Linked DNA regions of Homo sapiens. The protein of the gene in region 3 interacts with the protein of the main gene of each other region in a pairwise test. Each region holds a gene or a part of one and is shown on either strand. Other genes may lie near its edges.

The links. The genes of interacting proteins can lie anywhere in the genome.
Region 1: the proteins of KLHL2 (region 3) and PIBF1 interact in a two-hybrid assay, tested with the Homo sapiens proteins (one large-scale study listed by BioGRID).
Region 2: the proteins of KLHL2 (region 3) and NACC1 interact in a two-hybrid assay, tested with the Homo sapiens proteins (one study listed by BioGRID).
Region 4: the proteins of KLHL2 (region 3) and CWC22 interact in binary tests that used the Homo sapiens proteins (3 or more experiments, as listed by UniProt).

Annotation. Positions count from the first base shown.
Region 1 is NC_000013.11:72,787,741-72,792,132, reverse strand, and holds part of PIBF1 (progesterone-induced-blocking factor 1), read right to left. Parts: intron 1-4,392.
Region 2 is NC_000019.10:13,134,372-13,138,455, reverse strand, and holds part of NACC1 (nucleus accumbens-associated protein 1), read right to left. Parts: intron 3,257-4,084; 5' UTR 3,249-3,256; coding exon 2,303-3,248; intron 2,225-2,302; coding exon 2,051-2,224; intron 1,186-2,050; coding exon 1,080-1,185; intron 979-1,079; coding exon 881-978; intron 310-880; coding exon 50-309; 3' UTR 1-49. UniProt on the Homo sapiens protein: Functions as a transcriptional repressor. Seems to function as a transcriptional corepressor in neuronal cells through recruitment of HDAC3 and HDAC4. Contributes to tumor progression, and tumor cell proliferation and survival.
Region 3 is NC_000004.12:165,297,129-165,302,412, reverse strand, and holds part of KLHL2 (kelch-like protein 2), read right to left. Parts: intron 4,805-5,284; coding exon 4,688-4,804; intron 2,907-4,687; coding exon 2,757-2,906; intron 1-2,756. UniProt on the Homo sapiens protein: Substrate-specific adapter of a BCR (BTB-CUL3-RBX1) E3 ubiquitin ligase complex that mediates the ubiquitination of target proteins, such as NPTXR, WNK1, WNK3 and WNK4, leading most often to their proteasomal degradation.
Region 4 is NC_000002.12:179,997,298-180,001,689, reverse strand, and holds part of CWC22 (pre-mRNA-splicing factor CWC22 homolog), read left to right. Parts: intron 1-1,783; exon of another isoform or gene 1,784-1,959; intron 1,960-4,392. UniProt on the Homo sapiens protein: Required for pre-mRNA splicing as component of the spliceosome. As a component of the minor spliceosome, involved in the splicing of U12-type introns in pre-mRNAs. Promotes exon-junction complex (EJC) assembly.

The DNA of each region.
Region 1 (4,392 bases), on a different chromosome or scaffold from region 3:
GTAGAGACAGGGTTTCACCATGTTGGTCAGGGTGTTCTTGAACTCCTGACCTCAAGTGATCAGTCCACCTTGCCCTCCCAAAATGCTGGGATTACAGGCATGAGCCACCGCGCCTGGCCTCCTGCCTCCAGTTTTGCCAACCTCCAAATTTATATTCCTCTATCTTACCTTTAAAAAATGCTATCAAAAATTTATTTTCAGCTGGGTGCGGTGGCTCACGCCTGTAATCCCAGCACTTTGGGAGGCCGAGGCGGGCAGACAACTTGAGGTCGGGAGTTCAAGATAAGCCTGGCCAGCATGGTGAAACTCCATCTTTACTAAAAAATACAAAAATTAGCCAGGCATGGTGGCGGGCGCCTGTAGTCACAGCTACTCAGGAGGCTGAGGCAGGAGAATCACTTGAACCTGGAAGGCGGAGGCTGCAGTAAGCCAAGATTGCACCACTGTACTCCAGCCTGGGAGACAGAGCGAGACTCCGTCTCAAAAAAAAAAAAATTATTTTCCTAGTTTTACATTCTTCAGAGGATCCTCACTGTCCTCAGAATAAATTCTAAACACTGTGGCATAATACAGTGGTATTTCTTGATCTAGCCAACTACTTTTGTCATTAGCTTAAAAGGAAACTCCATTTCAGCCAATATTAAGTGCTTGCCATCCCCCAAGTATGCTGTGCTTTCTCAAGCACTTGGATTTTGCTCTTAGTCTATTTAGAAAATTCTTTATTCCCTTTGCTTTAACCAAGACGATTCCTGTTTGCCCCTTAAAATACATGAATTTCAGGCAGGGCGTGGTGATTCACACCTGTAATCCCAGCACTTTGGGAGGATGAGGCGGGTGTATCACAAGGTCAGGAGATGGAGACCATACTGGCTAACATAGTAAAACTCTGTCTCTACTAAAAATACAAAAAATTAGCCGGGTGTGGTGGCATGTGCCTGTAGTCCCAGCTACTCGGGAGGCTGAGGCAGGAGAATCGCGTGAACCCGGGAGGCGGAGGTTGCAGTGAGCTGAGATCATGCCACTGCACTCCAGCCTGGGCGACAGAGTGAGACTCCATCTAAAACAAACAAACAAACAAACAAACAAACAAACAAAAATACATGAATTTCACAGCCAATCCATAACATATGCAAGTAAATCCCTCCTCTTGCATCGTCAAGTCCCTCTTCTCTACTGAATCATTCTATCATCAAGCAAATGGTCCCTTGATCACATCATTCTCTTTGCTATAGCACCATTTCTCTGTTGGTCTTCAGAGCAAAACTTCAATATAGTTTTTGCCCCATACTATTCCAGTGAAACTATTCTTGTTAAAGTCCATAATGTCCTGTGCATTGTTTTTTTCTGCCTATTTATCTTATTTGACAGCATGACTTGATACAGCTAACCACTTCATTCTCTTTTAGCTTCCATGATACTCTTCTCTAGTTTTCTTAACTCACTAAATACTCTTAAGCTTTCTAGGCTCCTCAGCTGGACTACCCCTTTGACTTACTTTATAGCCCTCTGTTCTCCCTAGGAAATACCATACAATCCCATGGCTTTAGGTGCCACCTATATGCTGATTTATCTATCTATCTATCTATCTATCTATCTATCTATCTATCTATCTATCTATCTATGTGTGTGTGTGATCTATCTATAAGGGTGTGTGTGATCTATCTATAAGTGTGTGTGTGTGTGTGTGTGTGTGTGTGTGTGTGTGTGTGTGATGGACTCCTCCTAAACTCTAACTGACAATTACATTTAGGAATCTATAAGTTACACCTTCAAAACTGAACTTATTAATATATTTTACCTCCCAGATCAGTTTTCTCCCAGCCTTCCATTCTTATAAATGGCCCCAGTTAAATAAGCCAAAAACTTAGGAATGTAACTCTTCTGTTTCTGTCTTGTCTGCCCTTAGTCTATTATTTTAGTGCCATTTTGAATACAGAAATCAGGACATGTAACTCTTAACTGCTAAACTTTGCCAATAGCTTTTCTGACTACATAGTCTAAAGCAAGAATTAAAAAATGGTGATGGGCTAAATCCAGCCCATAAGAAAAATCTGATAGAGCATAGGTGGCCTACAAAGCATAAAATATTTTCTGTCTTGGCCATAAGAAGGGGGACCTCTGTCATATCCATTGGCATATATCCAGCAACATCTCAATAAATAAATCAATATAAAATGTAAAATAAACACATTCCTTATAATTACTGTTTCCCAAATCAAGAATACTGTTACATGTTGAGCATCCCAAACCCTAAAATCTGAAATTCAAAATGCTCTGAAGTCTGAAACTTTTTGAGAGTCACTATGACACTCAAAGGAAATGCTCAGTTGACCCTTTTGGATTTCAGACTTTCAGATCTGGGATGCTCAACTGGTCTAACACAAATATTCCCAAATTAAAAAAAAAATCAAAAATCTGAAATATTTCTGGTCCCAAGCATTTTAGATAAGAAACAACCTGTATCACGAGGAAAAAAAAAACATTTTTTTCAGGGTTTCAATGTTTATAATTTCAATTAACTTCTAAATTGAGTCTCTTAACTCAAGGACAAGCTGGGAAATGTATTCATTTCCCAGGTAATAAGGAACCCACAGATCTCTAATGAGAGATAAATAAAAAGAGTTTGGGGCATTTAAAAATTTTAAAGAGCTCAATTCTGTGGCTCAGGCTGTAAACCCAGCACTTTGGGGGGCCAAGGTGGGAGGATTGCTTGAAGCCAGGAGTTTGAGACTAGCCTGGACAACATAGTGAGACCCTGTTTCTACAAAAAAATTAAAAAAATTAGCTGGGTGTGGTGGTACACGCCTGTAGTCTCAGCTGCTCAAGAGGCTGAGATGAGAGGATTGCTTGAGCCCAGTAATTTGAGGCTGCAGAGAGCTGTGATCAAGCCACTGCACTCCAGCCTGGGCAAGAGAGTGAGACCCTGTCTAAAAATTTGAAAGGCAAGAACAGAGAAGAGGAAAGGAATAAAGAAGTACAGTAAGGAAGGGAATCTAGGCAGCAATAGATGGAAATAAAAGTGTAAAGCTAACAATGCTCTACTATCAGGAAGTTTGGCCTGAATAGCTACTCTTCTGAGTAGCTTTTCTACATTCTTTCAGTTAACAAGCAGCTGAGTGGGAAGTGCTTTTAAAGTGTTCTTGGACCTGCTTGTTCCTGTTTTTAGACATGGAGAATTCAAATCAATACGGCCAAGACTATTCCTAGTAACAAACTATAATAAAGCCATGTATCCATAACCATTTGTATTGGTGCCACAATGGAGTGGGACATGTTAGATTCAAATATTTTCTAACTAAAAAAAGATTTTGATGGGTAGAAGAAAAAACTTACTTGCCTCCCAACATCAAACCTTCCCTTCTTTCTGACATACTCTGGTTTTTATTAGTAACAACATGTCCAGTTAGCTTCCCATCCCTTGTAGGTAGGGGTGGTCATGCTATACAATGTTAGTCAATTGAGGCCACTGGCTTGAACTTCTGGAAGAACTCTTTAAAGAGGACTGACTCATTTGGCACATGCCCCCTTTTCCACTATCCTTCTCCTTATTACCACCTTTTACATGTACACAATACTGGAGGCAGATAAGCTATCTTATGATTTCAGGTGAAAAGCATATGTTGAAAATAGCTAAGGTTAAAAGGAGCCTGGGTTCCTAATGCGATCAAGGAGTAATCACTTGAGGTCTACTAAAATACCTATTTTTGGATTTTTGTTATACCAAAGAAACAAAATCCTTCTCTTGCTTAAGCCATGGTTTCCAGGTCTCTGTTACCAGAAACCACCATTTTTCAAGTCTCTGGTATTAACTGCTGAACTTAATCCTTGAAACCCTGGGCAGTTGGTTCAATCTCTTTCCAAAATAGAAATACCTATAATATTTATTAACAGTTGACTATTCAGGACTACTTAAATGCTTCCAATGACAGGAAGCTCAGAAACTTAAGATCAGGCCATTTCAATGTTAATAGCAATAACAGGCTTACACTGAGCAGAAATCTACCTTTCCTGTGACTTCCAACCATTATCATGGAGCTATAGTCTAGTGAGGAAAATTTATTTTTCATAACGTTAGCATACGATGCTCAATAAGCTTTGGAGAATGAATGACCAATTAAAAATACCTTTCTTTCAAGACCTAGGCTTTAAGTTTCCTGCCCAGGCTAAAAAGTGTATGGCATGGCTGGGTGCAGTGGCTTCACACCTGCACTTTGGGAGGCTGAAATGGGTGGATTGCTTGAGGCCAGGAGTTCGAGACCAGCCTGGCCAACATAGTGAAACCCCCATCTCTACCAAAAATACAAAACTTAGCTGGGCGTTGTGGCACGGGCCTACAGTCCCAGCTACTCGGGAGGCTGAGGCACAAGAATCGCTTGAACACAGGAAGTGAAG
Region 2 (4,084 bases), on a different chromosome or scaffold from region 3:
TGTGTGTGTTGGGAGGGGAAGTGTGTGGCCCCGCGGGAGGCTGGGCGGGTTACTGCAGGGCTTCAGCCGAGGGACCCGCCTCGCCCTCGTGGCTGGCGGTCTCGAAGCCATGCTCCACACCCATCATGTCCGGCTCGATCTTGCCCGTTTCACTGATGAAGGTGGTGTAGGCGTCATCCTCAGCCTTGAGCACCTTGACCTTGGGCATCCAGCTCTTGCGCACGACGCGGCGGGCGTTGGTGCACATGTCGGCCGCGATGGCATTCATCTCGCTCTCCTTGAAGTTGGGGGCGAAGTTCTGGCAGTAGTCTGTGGGGCAGGGTGGGTGCGGCCTTGGCACGGGGGCCAGGTGACTCCCACAAGGCCTACTCACCAGCTCCCCTACAGCATCTGCGACTCCCTCTCAAAGGGGAAACGAGTGAGGCCACGCGGCCAGGACACCACACTACGTGCACCCAACCCTACACCGGACTGAGTTCAGCCATGTGTGGGGATGTGTTGGTTTTGATGGGATGGCCCCGTGTTCTTGAAAAATTCGGATCATTTGCCAGAATTTAGTAACGGGGAGTGGTCACTTGAAAATCTAGATGCCCCCCATGACGAGTGGCTAGCACTGTCTGGCTGCCTCATCCCTCCCAGACTGCCCTGAGTTCGAGACCCTCCTGCCTGACACAGGCTCCCTGGCTTCCCTTCGGCACGTGCATCCCCCAAACACGAAGAAATCTCTAAGCAATCACAGCCGGTTTCCCAGCAAGGCTAGAATGAGCCCCAGAATGCTTCTCAACACTGAACTCTAGCCCTCTCTGAGAGCCAAGGCTGGGAAAAAACGTCAACCTGCGTGCCCCGGGCCCACGCCTCGTCCAGCTGGGCCAACACTCACACTTGACAGCGTGGAGCACGCGGCTGTCCAGGGGCTTCCGACGGGGATCGTTGGTAGAAGAGCGGATGCCGGTGCCGCAGCTGTTGGCCAGCGTGTTCCTGGGGGCAGGGGACATGGAGGGAGTCAGCGCTCAAGTTGGTGGTGGGGGGGACATGGGGAAACCCCACCCCCCTCCCTGGGGCTCTGGCAAGGGCCTTACCGGTCAAAGAAGGAGGCCAGGAGCCGCCGCAGTAGGACCTTGTGCCGCGTGCCTGCGCTGACGTGGCAGTTCATCAGCTGCGCCCTTGTGATGTACACGTTGGTGCCTGGTGAGAGGAAGCCGGAGGATGGCCTGGGGTGCCCCCAAACCGCCACAGCCCCCATGATACCAGGCCTCATCTCAGAACACCCCAGGCCCTCCCTGCTGGGCTCTGGGTCCCAAGAAAACTCACCCAGGGACCTTCTCCCCTACATCTCTACCCACCAAGGGCAGTCAGGGGAGGCTCCTTGGGGCTCCCCCAACCTCATCAGTGCTCAGGAAAGGACAGAAAGGGTTGCTTCACCATCCTCGGGGTGCCTGCTGTGTGGCCAGTCGTGCCGCAAGCCTGTGTGAGGTGGGCACGCTGGCTGTCACCAGCTAGAGATGAGCCCAAGCTCAGCAGGACCAACAGGGAGTGGAGGCTCACACCTAGGCACTCTGACCCAAGGACCAAACACAGTCTTCTTCTTCTTTTTTTAAGAGATGAAGTCTCACTCTGTCACCCAGGCTGGAGTGCAGTGGCCACCACAGCTCACTGCAGCCTTGACCTCCTGGGCTCAAGGGATCCTCCCACCTCAGCCTCCTGAGTAGCTAGGACTACAGGCATTCGCCCCTGTGACTGTCCAAATTCCTAACCTAGGTAGTAGCTGGCCTTCACAGGAGCCCGGGAAGTAGCTAATCTACCCATGCGGCCAAACAATAATAGCCAATGCTCGCCCCGACCCCTTAAGCCAGAAACCTAGAGGCCAGGCCTTGCTGTATCAGCTCCTCCATCTCACCAACGCCCCCACCCTTAGGGTGGCTGTTACCAACACTACAGCACAGATAGGGAAACTGAGGTGCTGGGGGCTCCTAACCAGCTGCCCAGCCCAGCCCAGGCCAGCCGGCTCCAAAGCTGCGGAGGGGAGAGATCTGGGGCGAGACCGGCCCACCTGTCACCAGCTCCAGCTTCTCAGAGGGGTCGCCCTCGTCGTAGAGCTTGGGGTGGCAGCGGTTCCCAATCTGGTTGATAAGTTCAGCCGGGAGAGACGCCAGGTCTTGCCGAACCCGGATGCGATTTCGGGACTCGGGGGCTACCTGCTCCGGGAGGGCCTCCACCTTCTCGGCTGCAGGGAGAGAGTGGCACGCGAGTGGCAGGAGGAGCAGGGGTGGCTGGTGGGATGGGGGACAGGACGGCACCTCACCTGTCTGGCCGACGTTCATCATGCTGTACATGGTGTACATGTTGCAGATCTGCCGGTACTGCTCATCCATGCCCTCCTCGCCACCATCCTCCTCCTCGTCCTCCTCATTGTGGTAGGAGCCAGGGCTGTCGCTGGTGTAGGCGCTTGAGGTGCCTGGGCTGGTCCGCTCCGACGTGCTGGGCCCACTCACCACACCCCCTGCTGCTGCCACCCCACCGGCTGGCTGCCCTGCTCCCGCAGCCACGGCGGGCTGGGCTGCTGCCACCACCGGAGCCTGTTGGGGTGGCGGGGGCTGGTGAGGCCGGTTGGCAGCCAGGTCCGGCGTGGAGAACTTGGCCATCTTGCGGCTGCCATTGCCGCCGCCCCCAGCCTCCTTCTGGCCACTGTCCCACAGCCGCTTGGCCACGGGCATGCACTGCACGGAGTCCGACTCCTGCTGCTCCGTCTTCACCCGCGACACGAGGGGCAGCGGGGTGCTACAGGCTGGCCAGCCCGATGTCTGCGCCACGGGGCTCTGGGGCTCCGACGATGGGGCCTCCTCCGCATGCAGGCCCTGGGAGTCGCAGCTCGGGGAGCTCACCTTGAGGAAGAACTCGGTGCCCTTCTCCATGATCTCCTGGATCTGCAGGAAGCCAGCCGTGTACATGAGCAGGAACTGGTCGCCCACGTTCATGCTCAGCCGGCCCGTGTAGCAGAAGCTGAGGATCTGCTGGAAAGACTGGGGCTGCACAGCCGCCGGCAGCTCCACCACGGCGCTGCGGCTGTTGTTGAACAGGTCCCGGAAGTAGGAGCTGCTGGCAGCAAGCACGGCCCGGTGGGCCTTGAAGGCATGGCCCTTGACCACCACTGACACGTCACAGTACAGGCCCTGCAGCCGCTGTTCATTGAGGCACTCCAGGATGCTGTTGCCGAAGTTCGGGATCTCCATCTGCAGTGTCTGGGCCATGGCAGCGGCTGCACGAGGGGCAGGGAGGAATGGAGAGACAGAGACGGAGGGACGGGGTCAGGCGGCAAATGTGGGTGCTGGCCTAGCCCTGGCCCCAAAGACCTCCCCTGCTGGAGGGACATCCGCACGATGGAATCTACCATGGTGCTAAACCACACAGAGCCCTCTACCCTATCTGTCCTGGTACAGACTCACTTTTACAATATGTGGTCAAATCTGCTAAGCTAGCTGCAGACCAGGGTGGCCACACGCTATCCCTTGCAAAGAGGAGGGGGCAAAGGCATACTTATTCATATGTACTTGAAGAGTAACTGAATATGCTTAAGTGCTCGGAAGAGTGGCTAGGACACAGTGTGCTACCTCTGAGTGCCAGCTATTGCAAGCACCAGGTACATATATGGTATCTCTTCAGGGTACTGGCATGGAAATGCCAGAAAGGCAGGGTCATCTGACTGTGCAGCAGAGTCTGCAGTGCTGGGCACATGCCCTTCAATCACTGTTTGTATAATGACTAAATGACCACTCAAGAAATTACATGAGGTCAGGCGCAGTGGCTCACTCATGTAATCTCAGCACTTTGGGAGGCTGAGGCAGGCGGATCACTTGAGGCCAGGAGTTCGAGACCAGCTTGGCCAACGTGGCAAAACCCTGTCTACCAAAAATACAAAAATTAGCCAGGTAAGGTGGTGTGGGTATGTAGTCCCAGCTACTAGGGAGGCTGAAGCCAGATAATTACTTGAACCCAGGAGACAGAGGTTGCAGTGAGCCGAGATTGTGGCACTGCACTTCAGCCTGGGGCATAGAGTAAGACTGTCTCAAAAAAAAAAAAGGAAAAA
Region 3 (5,284 bases):
TTTGTTCAATTTGACTCATTATTACGATGATAAAAGGCATCATTACTATGAAATAATAAGCATAAGAAATTAATCTTTGCTTCATTCTTACCCAACTCCTTAGACTTAATCTGAACATAACAACTCTAAAATGACAAATGGTGGTGTTGGAAAATTGTTCATCACCAGCACCTTTTCGAAAATATGTGTGGATAAACAAACACACTGAGAAGGGATCATACAAGTAAACATGCAAAGTCAAAGCAACAGGGCTGCTCACTGCTATCCAGCAAGTCTGCTGCCCCACCCACCACCCTGATAGAGCAGAATGAAAGAGAACCTCCAGGGACCCACATACCCAGCACAAAATAACAGCTAGAGAACTGAGAAATCTAAAAGTATAACACAGCTATAGGAGTCCTACTCCAAAACCACAACCAGAGAAGTCCAGGAACAATGTAAACACAACACCACAAAAGAGAAAGTAAGTACTTGATAGGCTTTTACCGAGAACTCTAGGTTTCAAAAATGACATGTTTATTCCAGAAATCAAAAATGAATTCACTTTCACTCTAAAGGTCTCTGCAGCATAGCTAAATATAGGAAAGTCTGAAGATGCTAGAGGAAGGAATATACAAGAAGAAATTCTTTTTTACAAATATGAAGTATTTAAAAAGTATTAAAGATATAGCACATTATTTAGAAGGAAGTTGGAAAGACTTACATAAAATAATAAAATAAAATAAATGGCAACCTTAAACTCACTGCCAAGACTGAACAATTTTTATAAATGGATTATTTTGTAAGAACAAAAACTGACACCAAATAAGATGGACAAATATGAATTAATGAAGACTTAAAAGATGGGTACTTATAAAAGCAGGTGTAAGGGTATTTGAAAAATGTAAACACATATAAAATCAGCAGACCTGGCATGAATACTGAGGTATTAAGGGAACTAGCTAATGTACTTACTGAGCCACTTACAATTATTTCTGAAAAATCTCAGAGAACTGAGGATAGATCAGAAAATTTAAAGAAAGCAAATACCAAATTTTCAAACCAGGATAGGAAGTGAATACCTTGTAAATACACTTTGTTAAGTGATGATAATTCTGAGTAAAAATTTAGAAGATTTTGAGAAAAGCATTTGAACTTCTAGGGGCCAATAAAATACCATGCAGAAGAATGTTTAAAAAGTCATGCCAAATTTGAATCCATTTGATCCTCAACCTCATCAGATGTTATATGCCAAACTACTTATTTTGGCTTAGATAATAATCATATAGAATGAAACTTTCCACAAATAGACTGTGTCAGTGGCTGGCTACTTCTAACAAGGTGCCACCAAGAGAGTTTTGAGATCAATTCTAAATTAAAATATTTGCTAACGATCTAGAAAAATAAGTCAACAGCATCCTGGCAAATCTGCAGTTAGTTATAAATTGAGAACTGTTGTTAGTAATAGGCAAAACAGAAAAACAATACCAATATAGATTTGCAGCAATTAAAAATGTAGACTCCAAAGTAAAACTTAGAAAAATATTAAAGTATTAAAGTGAAAGAATTTAAAAAACAATTCAATGGAAAGGACAGAGTAATAACTGAAGATGATATAAGAAAACGAGAGAACAGATTCTTATTTCTTAATCCAGCATTGCCCGAAACATATACAAGAGTTAAAAATAAATACATAAATAAAGTCTTTATATTATGAGTCATTCTGATTAGACCACGCACAAAATGGTGCTTAAAGTATTGGTCGTACTATAAAGATGTAAACAGAGCAGAAGGAATTGCCAACAGAGACAGAAATGAGGGGTTATTTCATAAGAAAAATTGAATTGGTAAAATATGAATGGCCACAGCTAAAAAGACCAAGGTAGAATATAAACATTCACATAGGAAAATATGAACACGAGACACACGGGAAGACATGGGAATGTATGCTGAAATGGCTACATATGATGTGCAGGGAACCATCAAATGGTATACAGCAGGGAACAGCAATGAGATGAACTGAACAAGCTATTTTTATCATCTGTAGTTCTAATGTGTAATTCTGTGAAACTACTGGGTTTTCAGTTATTAAACAAACACCTAGCTTACAAAATAATTCTTTTTTTTTTTTTTTCTTTTTTTGAGACAGAGCCTGTCACATTGTTGCCCAGACTGGAGTGCAGTGGGCACTCCACTCAGCTCACTGCAACCTCCGCCTCCTGGGTTCAGGTGATTCTCTGCCTCAGCCTCCTGAGTAGCAGAGATTACAGGCACCTGCCACCACACGTGGCTAATTTTTGTATTTTTAGTAGAGACACGGTTTCACGTAGATGGCCAGGCTGGTCTCAAACTCCTGACCTCAGGTGATCCACTGGCCTCAGTCTCACAAAGTGCTGGGATTACAGGCATGAATCACAGCACCCCAGGCCTACAGAGAAATCCTTCTACCTGGTCTGATTTTTTTGGACTATAATTAGAGCTTTCTACTATAATTAGAGCTAATAAAACTCAGAGGGGACAAAAACCAGTTGTCTTCTGTTCCAGAAGAGTGACATCATGCAGTTTATAAAAATTAAACGGACCAAAGAATCCCCACCCTTAACATATAAAATCAATAGAGGTTGAATTACATACACTACAATGCATTCTTAGGCACATTTTCTCTTGAAGGAAAACTAAAACAATAAATCACGGAAATTCAAATGAGCAAAATACTAACAGCTTCACTTATAAGCCTTTTGCATGAGGTAATAACAAGCATGAGAAACAGATCCTACTTTGGGAAGGTTCATGGGTGTCCTCAGCCGGGTCCGGACACTCTTCATTAATATACGCTGCTCTGTTGGCAGCAAATGGTACTTCATTGCTTCAATGAGGTAATCTTTGCAAGCACTGCTATTCTTGACCAATGCTTCCTCTTCAACCCTCTGTAACAAGAAATCAGACACACCCACTGAGGGTAGGGCTATTTCATAATTAAATTGCCAAAGAAAAAGAAGTAAAGGAGAGGAAAAAAGCAGTAACTATATCCTTTAGTTTAGTCTAAAAATAAACGAGGAAAGTTTATAAATACATCTAAGAGAAAAATAAATATAACCAAAAAATGCTCAAGTATCTGGCCTGCAGAGAAAAACATATATAGGTAATAAAAAGAAGAACCACAGTGAAAAATGATAAACTTCAATGTTAGCTATGGAATATGATGAACTCTTCGGATATTATATCCACCTGTGTATCTTTAACCTTTAAGACAAAAAGTAAGCAAAACAAGAAACAAAGTTTAGATAATACATCCTTCAGGTGAAGACAATACTAATAAGTTAATGATACCTTTTTCAAACACAAGTGGGCAAGTAAAATATCCCAAAAAGAGATTAGAAATACCTTAAAGCAACGTACCCATAACACAAATAAATCTTGTACTGCCTAGCCTGACCTCAAACGCAGGACAGGCTTCTGGGTTCGTTTTCTTTTTTCTGGGGGGGGAGGGGGGGCGGGGGGAAGGGAACAGAGTCTCACTCTGTTGCCCGGGCTGGAGTTCAGTGGTACAATCCTGGCAAACTCCACCTGCCGGGTTCCAGCAATTCTCCTCCCTCACCTTCTTGAGTAGCTGGGACTACAGGCACCTGCCACCATGTCTGGCTAATTTTTTGTATTTTTAGTAGAGACGGGGATTCACCACGTTAGCCAGGCTGGTCTCGAACTCCTGGCCTCATGCCTGCCTCCGCCTCCCTAAGTGCTGGGATTATAGACGTGAGCCACTGACCGCACCCACCCTTTTGGATCATCTTCTTAATACCAGAAGACCCATGATTACACAGATCACAAAAAGTAATGAGATTTCAAGAAATCCTAAAATGTTCAAATCTAATTTCTTAATAAATGATTCTTTCAATGGTTTCAATTATTAAAATAATGCTGAAATGTTCCTAGCGGGATTCTAATAAAAAAAACAGTAAATTTAAAATTATTTGGAGACCACTAAAGAATCATTTTTCACATTTATTTCAAATAATGTTTTCCCTCAGCTTAGAAATAAAGACAGAAATCAAATGCATGCCACTATTAAATTACGAAGTAAAATTAAACGGTATTTGGGTCAGACCTCAAAATTCCAGGTCTGCAGGGGAATCAGAAGAGACTATGGAAAGAAAAAAACAGTAAAGAAGATGCAAAGCAGTGACTGCCACAGGGACATTTATTTACATGTATTTAAGTGACCACAAATACTACCTTGATAAGCTCTAGTACTTGCTTACCCAAATCAAAAATAGGGGCAAAAGCAAATTTCTAAGAACGGGGAATGGTGGCTGGGTGTGGTGCCTCACAAGGCCTGTAATCCCAGTAGTTTGGGAGGCCGAGGCGGGTAGATCACTTGAGGTCAGGAGTTCGAGACCAGCCTGGCCAACAGGGCAAAACCCCAACTCTACTGAAAATACAAAAATTAGCTGGGGTTGTAGCATGCACCTGTAGTCCCAGCTACTCAGTAGGCAGAGGTACAAGAATCACTTGAGCCCGGGAGGTGGAGGTTGCGGAGAGCCGAGATGACGCCACTGCACTCCAGCCTGCGGGGTCCTTTACTGTCTTCTGTCCTGTACTCCACAGATCTGCATTCTACAGCTCTTATCACTGCTTGATAGGGATCTACATGCTGTCAGGCCAGTGACACAGTGCTGTGTGGATTCATATGTTTTGCATATGCATTTACCTGAACTAAATATTCCCGAGGAAGCAAAGGTAACCGTACATGTTCCATCAGTCGGGCCATAAACTCTTGCCTCACATCCTTGTCATGGTTCACCCATGCTATTACTGCTTCAAATACCTTGCAGAAAATATAGGAGAAGAAAAAATAAGAAATGAGTTGTGTATCAAGGCATCTGGATAAAATATGAGACTACATTTTATATATAACTCTTGCTAAGACATCCAAGTTTAATTCACAGCTCAAGTGTTTTCAAAATCCTGACTTGCAATGTACTTACAAAGCCATTCACCCCATTTCTTTTCTGTTCTTTTTTTTTTTATTTACCCAAAATAATAAAGCAAAGTGATATTCTGGAATGAAAATCATGTATCCTTATAAACAATTCATGTTTGGCTTTTTCTTCAGGTTTACAAACAAATGTTAGACCATACACATAAATCGAAGGTTTGTACAATAGATCGACTCAGCTCTGTAATAGCAGAATATATTAAAATGTAGTATTTTGAAATTTTTTTTTACAAATTAAAAAATAAGGGCATTATTTTTTACAATACATAATTGTGAGAAAGCTAATAAGCTAATATGAAGACACTGTTT
Region 4 (4,392 bases), on a different chromosome or scaffold from region 3:
GTAGTGGGAAGGGAAAGCTGAATTACAGTGGGTAGGAGAGGTTAAGAATTAGAGACATCAGGCTGGACATGGTGGCTCACTCCTGGAATCCCAGCACTTTGGGAGGCCCAGGTGGGCAGATCACTTGAGGTCAGGAGTTTGAGACCAGCCTGGCCAACATGGCGAAACCCCATCTCTACTAAAAATACACAAAATTAGCTGGGCATGGTGGTGCGCACCTGTAATCCCAGCTATTCAGGAGGAGGCTGAGGCATGAGAATCACTTGAACCTGGGTGGTGGAGGCTGTGATGAGCTGAGATCATGCCACTGCGCTCCAGCCTGGGTGACAGTCAGACTCTGTCTCAAGAAAAAAAAAAAAGAAAAAAAAATTAGAGGCATCAAGTGTGAACTTACATATCACAAAATAGCTGTGTAGGGATGAGACAGTAAAACTAGAGAGGGGACAGGATAAAGGGAATTTGCCCCATAAATATCATAATTTATTTTTAAATGAATCATTAAAAAGTTCAACATGTAGAATTTTTCTTTAAAACCAACTTAAATAGAAATCAATACTGTACTGTAAATCAAGAGACAGCTTATTGAAATGTTGAAACTAACAAAAATAGACAAATTTCTATTCTCATAGATCCTGCATTCTGTTGAAAAGAAGCACATTGGGGAATCTTCCTATGCGTAAAAAAATTAATAGTATTTCCAAATGATTGGATCACTTAACTCTTTATTTGGTTACTTAAACAGCCTAAAATAGACTAGCTTCATGATACAGGAAATGAATGGGGGTAATACTACCTCCCAATTTATAATGTGAGGTTTTCAGTATAGATAATGGTGTCACTGGGTTCATTAAAATGTCTTTTTTTTTTTTCACTCCTCTGTGTCTTACTGTCTTAAAGTGTCTGAAAATTTGGGCTGTCTACTCTCCACACAGAGTTGCAGACCAGTCAAATGCTTTTATATTACTTACTTCTTACAGAAAACAATGTCCAGAACTGTCTGCACAACTTCTAGCCCTGTACTTGAACCTGGCAATCTAGTCATTCAAATGGTTATGAGTCAGCACACCTGGCATATGCAATGACTATGAAGCAAAAGGGAGGACAGCTCTGCAACTCTTTATTTGTAATTTTTGGAGCCAGAAGTGTTTTGATTTCAGTATCTTGTAGATTTTAGAAAACTGCAGTGCCTATACTACATATTAAGTAATCCCCCCTTTTGGGGTCTGGAGTAACATCCTCTAGTCAAAACACATTAATATTTCTGCACTGTATCAAGTCACATTAAGTATCAAGTCAGTATATGCTAAGTTTTGCTCTCAAGTGAGTTGCCACATGCTTAAGAATAATCTTTGTATTTTCAGAGCTTTACAGATTTTAGAACTGCAGATAAAGGATTTTCAACCTGTACCTGGTGACTTTTCTAGAAAGAGACAGGAGTATTTTGACCCTTTTATTTTCTTGAAATTGTGATTCTATGCTGACATCAAATTATAATTTTTTGGCCTTATGAGGTATATCATGAGGCAATTTTTTCACTAATATGTAAATTAAGACAGGAAAAAATAGCAAGAAACGGTTTTTCTAAAACAAGTAAGTTTTCCTTCAGTACAGATATGGAAAGTACATAGCAATCTTGTTTTATATTGTTCAAGAGCGAAGCCAATCTGTTACTCCTATTTGTTCCCTGAAAAGGAAAATCCGTTCCTTGGGGGCTTGGCTGTTGTTGAGGTATTTTCTGAGAATTCCGTTCCGTTATGTCCCCTCCCATTATATTTTGGCATTTAGAATAATTTTAAGACAGTTTTTATTTTGTATTGTATAATATTACCACTTTCCCCATTGGGCAACTAAGGTTTTTGTTTTGGTTTTTGTTTTTGTTTTAAATATGAACTCTGTTAAAATGTTTGAAATTCACCAAACCTGTTTTTACTATTTAGAAGCCAGAGGAGCCAACTAAAGGTAACTCACTATTGATTCCCCTTTCCTTTAGCAATTTTATGACAATATGTTTCAGCAAGTTCCTCTAACTTGGACTGAGAACACCGAAGTGACAATGGTAGAAGTGTTTTGCTACGGAAATCATCTGGAAAGCAGTGCATTTCAGCCATTAGTTGAATATTTTCTCATTTTCTTAATTTTTGAGATGATTGCAGAATTCACAGTTTTCTGCTTAACAGTCTGACGTACTTATATATGTTATTAAATATTTTGCTTTCTAATGCTTGATGAAACTGAGAGAAAAACTATCTTTTTTTTAATAGTGCTCTCGTGAATACTATATCTCCTATTGGAAAATATCCTTTCTTCGGGAGAACAGGTGTGGTTTTGTTGAGTTGCTTTCTTGTGAGAAGGGGAAAGAAATTTAATAATTCACCATAAAATTCACATAGTGATGCTTAGAAGAGCAGAGAGTGCTATAAACTCTAGATAAATTGCTCTCATTTCAGGAATTTCCGATTAGTGTAAGTATTAGCATGCATATGTTGAACTCAGAATTTCCGAACAGGCATATTCTGCATAAATCTGGACAATGACAATACTTTATTCATTTTTTGTTAGAACTATGATAGCAGTCTACTTTACCATATTGTCATTTTCACACTTACGTTGTGAGACATGGAAATGTAACAGATTGTACTTTATTGCCAGAAATTATTTGCTGATGAAAGTTGAAAGGGGAAAGATGATATCGATCAGAAGAAAACTCACTAAATTGAAATATGTAAATTGAAATATGTAAATTTAAATAGAAATAAAATGCACAGAAATTGCTTGTTCTGAAATGTGTAAGTAGGTTGGGAAGAGGAACCGGGTGTAAGACTCCAGGAGAGTAGCAAAGGAAAACGCTAAATCTTGTGCAATGGGGTCAAGTGATTTTTTATTTTTATTTTTTGCTCATAGTATACCTAGTCACAGTGAATTCTAGGTATGCTAAATTAAATAAAAAGGAATCCTTAAAATTACTATGAATGTTTGAAAAGAAGTAGTGCTTCATTATATTAAATCACAGTCTTTGCTATCTGGAACTTTGAACGAATGGATCAGTTTAGGCTAGGATAATTTTCTGTATAGTAGAGTCTGTACTTGTTTACATTTTATAATTTACCATTTTGGCTTCAATTCGTTAGTGTTGGCATTTTCATTGGGACAAAATATATGGCTTTGGCATCAGATAAACCTGGCTTTGAAGTTTAGCTTCTGCCATTTACTAGGTGTAATTTACGTGGACAAATTGCTTGAATTCTCTGTACTTCAGTTGTTTCACTGAAAAACATGGCTAAAAAAAAAATCACCAGAACAGGGTAATTATGAGGATTGAGGAAGATTGTATAAGTGATTATAAATTGTGGCCATAATTTCTCAAGTTTAAAAAACACTTCTTACCTATGAATTATTAAGAATTAATACATTTGGATTTTCTGTTTCCCTTTCCAATTGATTTACAACTAAGTTCTTCACTATAAAGTAGGTAGGCTGTGGGGTCTCTATATTCTGCCTAAGTGGCTCATGGTTTGAGAACAAATTGAGAACCAAAGTTTCTTATGTAAAATTGAAAAGCTGAGGAGACTTGGGGAAAAGTTGGATTTTGGAGTTACCTTGGGAATACTTTCATAAAACAAGTATGCATGGGTTTCCCCTACACTTTCTGCCCATTTTCTGATTTTGTAAGTCAGAGGTGGGCCCCAATATATGTACAAGTAATTCTCCTGTCATGCATTTTTTCTTGATTCAAGTTGTGTTTAATATAGTGACATCAAACTAGTTTTACACTGTTAAGTAGTGATTTAAAACTGACCTGTAGGAAAAAAGTCCAACCTGTCACCTTGCTTGAGTGGCTTAGTGTTTTGTTTATCATTATAGATTTGTTTCTTATACCTAGAATGTAAGCTTCACATGAACAGATTTTGTTACGGTAGTTCATTGCTGCCTATCCAGTGCCTAGAAAGATGCTGGGCAAATAACAGAAGTGCTGTATTATTTGTTGGGGAACAAATGTACGTATAAATAACACTGGGTTTAAAGGTAATAAAGGATATGTTAGAAATGTTAAATGGTTGTGCTAGTAGAGGTAGGGAAAAAAATACCAATATCTTTGAGCAAAAGTAAGTCGAGTAAAGTTTTGAGTTTTATGGCTCTCTATACCTTTATAGCCATTAAAACAGGAGCTTTGGAAGGAGTCATGCAATTTGGTTTCAACAGAGTCATCTTGTTGAGGCAAATGGTCCTAAAATCCAGCTGAGATAAGGGTTATCCCTACAGGGCTCTCATCCTCAGGTGAGGGAGGGGGTAGCCTCTGTTTTAAATATTTTTTAAAATTCTATTTTAATTTGTAGCCTTTTAAGCTACATTTTGTACTTTTTTTTTTTAGTCATTACTCTAAGGAACAGTATA